Homo sapiens: one gene and its partners. The protein of the gene in region 1 purifies or fractionates together with the protein of each later gene. This does not show direct contact. Each region holds a gene or a part of one and is shown in the gene's direction. Other genes may lie near its edges.

Region 1 (2,580 bases):
TCTGGTGCCCTTTTGGGTTGAAAGGCTGGATTGGGGAGGGGATACAGTAGAGAGTGGTGGGAGGCAATAGATCATTACTGAAATAGTCAAAATGGAGGAGTCGTCTGTCAAACAGGGAGAAGACAGGTACAGAGTTGGCCTGTTCTGGGCCCTTTGACATTGACTTCAAGTTCATCTAGTGCAGCTCTTTTATTCGAAGAAGGAATGTGGAAACTGAGGCCCAGAAATTAAGTGACCTGTCCGGGGTCACAAGGCAGGGCCAGGAGTTCTGCTACAAGCCTTTACTTCCACATACATCTTTTGAAGACTTTTGACATTCAGAAAGGAAGGCCACTGATGTGTTGGAGAGAGTACCCAGGGGACCCGCAGAGTGTTCGGACCCCAGGGGAGACAACCTGTTCATTGTTGAACATCCCCACCTCCCACCTCAATATCTGCCCCATCATTGGACAAATGCAAATAATCTAGACTATGGCGGGCTATTACTTTGTGGTGAGAATGTGGAGACATGGAGGTGTCAGGAGATTTGGGGAATTCTCACTTTAATACGGGCTTCTCTGTTTACCAGCTTTGTGAGTTGGGCAAGATATCTAACTTTTCTGGGCCTCAGTTTCCTTTTGTTTAAAAGTGGATAATAGAAGTAACCAACCTGAGAGAGTTGTTTTGACAATTAAATGTGTTTAGAACCTGGCACAGAATAAGCTCTTAAAATGTCATCTTTCATTGTATGGCTGAAATAGAACATTGAAGGGAGGTGGGAATGGGGGAGAGCGGGGCATCTGCAGGAAGCCAGGGAACTATCCTGCTGTAAGGGTTCATCTTTTAGCAGAAACAAAACAAGGTCTGATCAGCAGGGATATGGCCTTGTTCCTTTTTTTGAGATTGAGTCTGGCTCTGTTGCCCAGGCTGGAGTGCAGTGGCACGATCTTGGCTCACTGCAACCTCCGCCCCCTGGGTTCAAGTGACTCTCCTGCCTCAGCCTCCCAAGTAGCTAGGACTACAGGTGCTGCTACCACGCCTGGCTAAGTTTTGTGCTTTTAGTAGAGACAGGGTTTCACCATGTTGGCCAGGCTGGTCTTGAACTCCTGGCCTCAAGTGATCTGCCTACCTCGGCCTCCCAAAATGCTGGGATTACAGAAGTGAGCCACTGCATCTGGAGGCCTTGTTTCTTCTTCATCCTTTTCTTTTAATTTTTTGTAGAGACAGGGTCTCGCTATGTTGCCCAGGCTGGTCTTGAACTCCTGGCCTCAAGTGATCCTCCCACCTCAGCCTCCCAAAGTGCTGGGATTACAGGCATGAGTCACCAGGCCCGCCCTCTTCTTCATCCTTAAATCCCCAGCTCACAGCTCAAGGTCTGGGACACAGTTGATGCCCAATAAATGTTTGCTGCCTACCTACAGCTGCCTGAGGCTGAACGTTATGACCCTTCCAGAAGCACAGTGGGTCTCTCTCTTGTCCAGGTGCTGGTGAGAAAGTCAAGTACAGTACCTATCATGGAAAAACCCTATGTCTGGGGGAATGGGTGTGAGAAGGGGGTGGGCTTCCCCAGGAGGAGAAAAGGCAGATGCTCCCTACTCCCTTGAGCCTATCGGGAGCTTCTAAGAAGTTGGTTAACCTCGACCAATAAACTAAATCTATTACAAGAGACTCAAAACCAAGCTGAGCCTCCACCTGCTCTGCCTCCATTCCTCTTGCCTGGTGGTAGGAGTAGTTCAAGGAAAGCAGGTGCAAGCTATGCACCTAAAGTTCCCTCTGATCCTGTCCTTGCTGTTGTGGCCAAGCCCTGGGATTCATTTTCCGGTCCCACTGCCCCAGCCTGGGGGAATGGTTCTGCTGGGCTGCTTCCCTCCTGGTTCTGCTTTTTGTGTATATTTGCAGGGAAGATGTTAACACTTCCTAACAAGTCTTTGTGTTCATCTAATCTCTGCTGTTTAACCTTTGACTCTCCCCTATTATCAGTGTCTGCCACCTTTGCTGGCCAGACCAAAGGCCCCAGGAAGAGCCCTCAGCCTGAGCTGGCTAGGAAGAGGATGAGGCAGGCATTCCATCCCCGGTTTGCAGGCAGATGGATCGCCTTTCCCTGGGGCAGAGCTTTGGAAAATAAAGCAACTTGCAATGCCATTAGGATCCCCCAGCCCCCACTCCTTTTGAACTGTCAGCCTTTAAGTAAACATTCTTTTCCTGCCATGGGTCCCAGTACCTTGGTGGGGAGTGGGGAACCTGGGAGGAGAGGGGCCCCGAGAGCCTCTGTTGAACGGAGGGATTTGGGCAGGGAGGACGGGGGCAGAAGTGCTGCATTGATGTCAACTCTCTGAGTCCCCAGGGCATAGGGGCTTTTGAAGTGGACTCAGGGTAGCTGTCACCACAAGGACCAGGCCCCTCTGAAGTACTAAAAGCCCCATCCTCCCCAGGCCTCTCACTTGAGTTTGTTTGTACCTGCCTGAGGTGTTTCCCTTCACAGCCCATACAACCTCTGCAGCAGAAAGTGATGCCTTGCCCAAGTGACAGGTCTAGCAGCCCCTGGCCAGAGCCTAAGCCACATTTCCACCAAGGAAAATGCCAAATTGGTGTACTGTTAGA
Region 2 (3,659 bases), on another chromosome or scaffold:
TGTGGGGTCGGGGGAGAGGGGAGGGATAGCATTAGGAGATATACCTAATGTTAAATGACGAGTTAATGAGTGCAGCACACCAACATGGCACATGTATGCATATGTAACTAACCTGCACATTGTGCACATGTACCCTAAAACTTAAAGTATAATAATAATAAAATAAAAAAAAGGTTTTTTTTTTTTTGAGACTGAGTTTCACTCTTGTTGCCCAGGCTGGAGTGCAATGGTGCGATCTCAGCTCACTGCAACCTCTGCCTCCTGGGTTCAAGCGATTCTTATTGCCTCAGCCTTCTGAGTAGCTGGGATTACAGGCACACGCCACCACACCTAGCTAATTTTTTTGTATTTTTAGTAGAGATGGAGTTTCACCATGTTGGCCAGGCTGGTCTCAAACTCGTGACCTCAAGTAATCTGCCCATCTCGGCCTCCCAATTGCTGGAACTACAGGTGTGAGCCTCCGTGCCCAGCTGCCCATATTCTTTTTATCACGTCATTCTGTTTATTTCCCTCCCAGCACCAATAACCATGTGAAATCCTTCTGTGAGCATGTTTTCTTGTCTATCATGGCTGCTTTGGCAGAATGTAAGTCCAGGGGACCAGGGTCTCATCTGTGTTGCTTTTGTGTCTTTTCCAAGCAAAGGGCATAGTTGGCACTCACAGGATGTTTACTGGACAAATGCATGAATAAGAACATGGCGACACAGATCTGGAGGAAGTATGCGGTGGCTGAGGAAGTGGTCAGGGAGGGACTAAGGATGAACTTGACTTCCTTGGAATTTGTGTATCTCACATGAGGGTTAGGTATTAAAATTTCCATGTAAGGGAAAAGTTATCCTTTAAAGTCCTTTAAATCACTTTGAAACTACCAGAACTGGGACCTTGGGAAGTTCAAAAAGTGAGAATTAACTTCTTTGCTTTTCTGAGCATTTGGGCTGTGGGGTCTTCCCAGCTATGGGGCAGTGGAAGGCAAGGCTGTTGAATGGAGAATAGGGTAACAGGGTCAACAAGGGGATTTTATTGTCTTTTTGGAGGAGCCAAGTAGAGATGGTTGGCTTTATGTAAATGTACTTATGATGTAATGTGGGTATGATGTAACATGCATTTGATAGAATGTCTGTAAGAGGTAATGGGCATATGAAATAGCATGCATATGATGTAATGCACATATAATGTGACATGCATATGGTGTAATGTGCATATGATATGTGCATATAACATGCATACAACATAACAGATATATAGTGTAACATGCATATGATATGATGTGCATATGATATAACATGCATACGATGTAACAGGTATATAGTGTAACATGCATATGATGTAATGGGCACATGGTATAATGTGCATAAGATATAATTTGCATATGAGATAACATGCATACGATGTAACAGGTATATAGTGTAACATGCACATGATGTAATGGGCACGTGGTGTAATGTGTGTATGATGTAATGGTGTGTATGGTGTAACTCACCTGGCTTTCTCATGGCTTACCCATTGTCTCTGCTCTTCTGTTCCAACTCAGGAGGCAACCTTTCCAAACAAGACTGGACCATCCAGTGGCCCACGACAGAGACGGGGAAGGAGAACAATCCCGTGTGCCCCCCGGAGCCCACCCCGTGGATCCGCACCCATCTCTCCCAGAGCCCCAGGGTCCCGTCCAAGTGCGTCCAGCACTATTGTCACACCAGCCCCACTCCCGGGGCCCCTGTGTACACCCACGTGGACAGGCTTACCGTGGACGCCTACCCGGGCTTGTGCCCGCCCCCGCCACTGGAGTCGGGCCACCGTTCCCTGCCCCCATCGCCCCGGCAGCGGCACGCGGTCCGCACCCCGCCGCGCACCCCCAACATCGTCACCACCGTGACCCCGCCGGGCACGCCGCCCATGAGGAAGAAGAACAAGCTGAAGCCCCCGGGGACCCCACCGCCCTCCTCCCGAAAACTGATACACTTGATCCCGGGATTCACCGCGCTGCATCGGAGCAAATCCCACGAGTTCCAGCTGGGGCACCGCGTGGACGAGGCCCACACGCCCAAGTGAGTGCGATCGGTGGGTGCCCTGGGGCGGTCGAAACCCGGCCTGCGAGGGGCTGCCCCTTGGTCCCAGGAACTGCCCAGGTCAAGGAAACCGGGAACAGACTTGCGTTCCAGACTCTGGTTGAATGAAAAATGGCTTTTCACAGAGGGTTCTGAGCAAATGAATAGAACAGAATTTCCCAGAATTGGCCGTTTAAAAAATACGATTAATATCCTATGGCCTAGGGGCTAAATCTGATACCCGGCCTGATTTTGTAAATAAAAGGTATTGGAACACGCCCATGATCATTCCTTTATGTGTTGCCTATGGCTGCTTTTGTGTGACAATGGCAGAGTGAGAATAGCCCACAAAGCTGAAAGTATTTACCATCTGGCTTTTTACTGAAAACGTTTGCCAACCCCTGCAGAGTCTAGCCTAGTGCCGCTCCTAGAAATAGGATATGAGGCATATATTAACCTTCAACTTTCTAGTAGTCACATTAAAAAGAATGAAAAGGAACAAGTGATATTAATGATCATAATACATCATTCAACCCAATATATCAAAATTATAATATCTTAACAAAGAATCAATGTAAAATATCATTACAGAGATATTTTGCATTTTTTAAAATACAAAGTCTTTGAAATTGAATGTGTATTTTATATCCACGGCTCATCTCAGTTGAAGGTGGTAGGAAGCAGGACACGTTGGGGAAATTGACAGAGGACCCCTTTGGGGGAGAGAGCAGGTGTGTGATGTAGGGTGAGACTCGAGGATTAGGCAGGTTGCTGTGCTATTCACAGTAGCCAAAAAGTAGAAACAACCTGTGTCCATCAGTAGACAAATGAGTAAACACAGTGTGGTCTATCTATACAATGCAATATTATTCAGGCTTAAAAAGGAAGAAACTTCTTTTTTTTTGAGACGGAGTCTAGCTCTGTTGCCCAGGCTGGAGCAGTGGTGGGATGTCAGCTCACTGCAACCTCTGCCTCCCAGGTTCAAGTGATTCTCCTGCCTCAGCCTCCCAAGTAGCTGGGACTACAGGCCTGTGCCACCACGCCTGGCTAATTTTTTGTAGTTTTTGTAGAGATAGGGTTTCACCATGTTGACCAGACTGGTCTTGAACTTCTGACCTCAAATGATCTGCCCGCCTTGGCCTCCCAAAGTGCTGGGATTACAGGCATGAGCCATCATGCCCGACCTGGGAGGAACTTCTGATATATGCTACAACATGAGTGAACCTTGAAGACAGCATGCTAAGAGTAAAATATGCCAGACACATAATGACAAATACTGTATAATTCCACCAATATGAGATACCTAGAGTAGACAATTTATAGAGGCAGAAAGTAGAACGGTGGATGCCAGGGCTGAGGGGAGGGAGAATGGGGAGTTGTTATTTATTGGATATAGACTTTGCATTTGGGATGATGAAAACATTCTGGAGATGGATGGTGGTGATGGTTGTACAACAATGCAAATGTAATTAGTACCATTGAACTGTACACTTCAAAATGGTTAAGATGGTAAATTTTATATTATGTATATTTTATCACCATTTTAAAAAGGCAGGATTCTGTAAGTGAAGGGTTGGCACACTTTTTCTGTACAGGGGCAGATAGTAAATACTT
Region 3 (3,659 bases), about 74 Mb from region 1:
CTAGCATTATTGTTAGGGAAAATAAAGAGTTTCTGTTAACTGGCTTTATTTGTTTTCATTGATTGTATGTCTATTTTTAAAATTTTATTGTGAAACAATTTCAGACTCAAAGATTTGTAAAAATAGCACAAATAATTCTTATGTATCCTATTAAATTACTCCAGATGTTAATGTTTGTCACATTTGCTTTATCATTCTCTCTCTACACACAGTATTCTTTTTTAAAAAAATGAGAGTAGATTGTAGACATGATGTCTTCAACGTCTGCATACTTTAATGTGTATTTCTTAAATGAACATAGATACATTTTATTGTCTATACACAGATTTTATCAGTTGTCCCATTAATGTCCCATATAGCAAAAGACAAATAATTGTTTCGGGTCCAGGATCATACACTGATTTTAGTTATTTCTCTTTAGCCTCTTTTATTTCATTTAATTAATGAATTAATTTATTTTCGAGACAGAGTCTAGCTCTGTCGCTCAGGCTGAGTGCAGTGGCACCAACTCAGCTCAGTGCAACCTCCACTTTTCAGGTTCAAGTGATCCTCCTGCCTCAGCCACCCAAGTAGCTGGGACTACAGGCACATGCCACTGCGCCTGGCTAATTTTTTTTTGTATTTTTGATAGAGACGGGGTTTACCATGTTGGCCAGGCTGGTCTTGAGCTCCTGACCTCAAGTGATCTACCCACCTCGGCCTCCCAAAGTACTGGGATTGCAGGTGTGAGCCACCGCGTCGAGCCTCTTCAGCCTCTTTTAATCAGCAATTCTTCAGTCTTTATTTGCCTTTTCAGGGCCTTGACATTTTTGAAGAGTAAATAATTATTTTGTAGAATGTCTCTCAATTTGTGTATGTCCAGTATGTCCTTAACGGTTAGATTCAGGTTATGCAGTTTTGGCAGCAATTCCACAGAAGTGTTTTTCAGAACATAGTGTCAGTGAAGTTATTATTTTTCCCTTCATAACTAATATATTTCTTGTAGAGAGATACATTGAGACTGTATAGGTATCCTCCTTCTTACACTTTTTGCCCTCCTGTTGTAGCATCCATTGATAATTCTTGCCTGTGACAAGTGATAAGGACAGTATATGATCTTTTCATTCCAACTGTGATGGTTATCAAATGGGGATTTTTTTAAAATGCCATCACTCTGTCTATGTATCTTGTTTGGAATTCTGTAAGTAAGAGCTCTTTTTTTTTCTTTTTTTGTGAGGCAGTGTCTCACTGTGTTGCCCAGGCTGGCCTGAGACTCCTGGGCTCAAGTGATCCTCCTGCCTCAGCCTCCCAAGTAGCTGGAACTACAGCCATGTACCACCATGCCCAGCTCAGGAGGAGCTCATGTTTGTTTGTTTCTTTTTCTTCATATGAACTCATGGTGCCTCTAAATTTTCAATAAATTAGGCATTACTTAGCTTTTGCATGATATTAAGATTTACAGATTTACTCTTATTTGTGTCATAGGAAAGGGAATCATTTAAAACACGAATTCAAAATCCATTGTAATTTGGCTTTGTTGTATTATAATAATAATTATTATTATTTAATTTTATTTATTTATTTTTAGACACAGTCTTGCTCTGTTGCCCAGGCTGGAGTGAAGTGGCACAACCTTGGCTCACTGCAGCCTCCACCTCCCCATTCAAGTGATTCTGGTGCCTCAGCCTCCTGTGTAGCTGGGACTACAGGCATGCACCACCACACCTGGCTAATTTTTGTATTTTTAGTAGAGATGGGTTTTGCTATGTTGGCCAGTCTGGTCTTGAACTCCTGGCCTCAAGTGATCCACCCACCTTGGGCCTCCCAAAGTGTTGAGATTATAGGTGTGAGCCACTGTGCCCATACTGGTGTATTATTTACTCCTATAAAAAATTACTTAGTAGTAAAACCTTATTTTGGTCAGAACCTGCCTGAGTACGTATTGGTATTGGCTAGCCAGGAGGAGAGCAGTAGCAACTGGCAGGAAAATAAACTTGCCTAAAGTTAAAATTTTACTGAAGGAATGAACATACATATAATATTAACTGTCTTCATTACAAACCCAAATGGAATTTGGGGACTTGTGGCATGACAAATCGTGGGTTGTCTTTATTACTAAAAAGGCTTTGTCTTCTGCAAAGACAAATACTAAGATTATAGTATGCTGGTGAAAATATATGTAATTTGTTCCCCAAATAGGCCCTAGATCTTGAATATGTTGAACAAAATATCTTTTACATTGAAGCATCAGATTACTTTCAGCCTTAGGTAATAACATATATATATATATATATTTTTTTTTTTTTTTTGGAGACAAGAGTCTCGCTGTGTTGCCCAGGCCGGAGTGCAGTGGTGCATGATCTCAGCTCACTGCAATCTCCGCCTCCCAGGTTCAAGTGATTCTTCTGCCTCAGCCTCCCAAGAAGCTGGGATTGCAGGTGTGTGCCACCATGCCTTGCTAATTTTTATGTTTTTAGTAGAGATGGGGTTTTACTATATTGGCCAGGCTGGTCTTGAACTCCTGACCTCAAGTGATCCACCCGCCTCAGCCTCCCAAAGTGCTAGGATTACAGGTGTGAGCCACCACGCCCAGCCCACACATGAGTTTTAAACATAAAAACAATTACTTAATGGCCTTGTGAAAATTAGTGTTTTATGAAAATTGGTATTTTACCCCACAGTAAAATAGTAGTAAGGAAAGTGTATTGTTACCTTTTAGTAACTTAGTGAGACACTTAAGTTTCTGTCTTGCATAAAATACTCTTTTAAGATAATTGTTGGATTTGGGATTTGCAGATGGTACTATAAAGTTAGCATTCTTCTTTCTTGGCAATTAGCTAAAAACAACAAAGAGAGGGAAAAACTGACACACAAACCCAGCATTCCACTAAACTAGAAGACAGTTAAAAACCCCAAGCCACAAAATAGGTGGAAATGTTGCCAGGAGCAGTGGCCATCAGGCTGGCTGCATGTGGGAAGAAGTAGGTAGGATGCCGTGGCTGTGGAGCTCAGAGACAACAAGAAACACCCATGAAACTGCAAGGCCCCCCTGAGGTATAAAACCTAAACCCCTTGTTTACAAAAGTGAAGTGGGTTTCTTCAGCTCAAGGCAGGAGCTTTCCTGCACCTGGTTTAATTCTAAGAAGTCGGGGAAATGAAGCCAAACAAGGAGTCACATAAACAAGCCATTTTTGCAGGAAGTAATATGTGTCTATCTCTATAGCAGTTGGGGAGGAGATGACTGCATTGTGAAAAACCTCCAGACTGCCTGTCTGCATTGGCTGTTGAGAAGTAAAATGCTAAACTGTCTCTTAGGTAAATCTCTGAATCACGAAAAAGTTGTCAGTCCAGAACTGGAGGCACTCTGGCCTTCTGCATAAACCTCCTACAAATATCAGGTTCTGGACAACCAGCACTTCTTCAGAGATGAATAATCAAAAGGAATTCATTAAGCTTGACTGCCACAAATGTTTGGAAATAAAAAAGGAAGAAAGAAACAGAAAAACAAAGGACAGATGAAGAACAGTAACCTAAAATATTGCCATAAAGAAGATGAATATTGTGATCAAACATTTTGCCATGAGTTTAGAAAACTTAATGAAGTATTTACTGCTGAGAGCACAACGCACTTGACATAAGAGGCCGGGGAAGAAATAGAATGATTGCATGAGAAAATGCAA

Evidence for each region.
Region 2: the proteins of DPCD (region 1) and KSR2 purify together in Homo sapiens (co-immunoprecipitation; one large-scale study listed by IntAct). This does not show direct contact.
Region 3: the proteins of DPCD (region 1) and RAB18 purify together in Homo sapiens (co-immunoprecipitation; one large-scale study listed by IntAct). This does not show direct contact.

Annotation. Positions count from the first base shown.
Region 1 is NC_000010.11:101,605,302-101,607,881, forward strand, and holds part of DPCD (protein DPCD), read left to right. Parts: intron 1-2,580. UniProt on the Homo sapiens protein: May play a role in the formation or function of ciliated cells.
Region 2 is NC_000012.12:117,759,397-117,763,055, reverse strand, and holds part of KSR2 (kinase suppressor of Ras 2), read left to right. Parts: intron 1-1,531; coding exon 1,532-2,045; intron 2,046-3,659. UniProt on the Homo sapiens protein: Location-regulated scaffold connecting MEK to RAF. Has very low protein kinase activity and can phosphorylate MAP2K1 at several Ser and Thr residues with very low efficiency (in vitro).
Region 3 is NC_000010.11:27,510,761-27,514,419, forward strand, and holds part of RAB18 (ras-related protein Rab-18), read left to right. Parts: intron 1-3,659. UniProt on the Homo sapiens protein: The small GTPases Rab are key regulators of intracellular membrane trafficking, from the formation of transport vesicles to their fusion with membranes.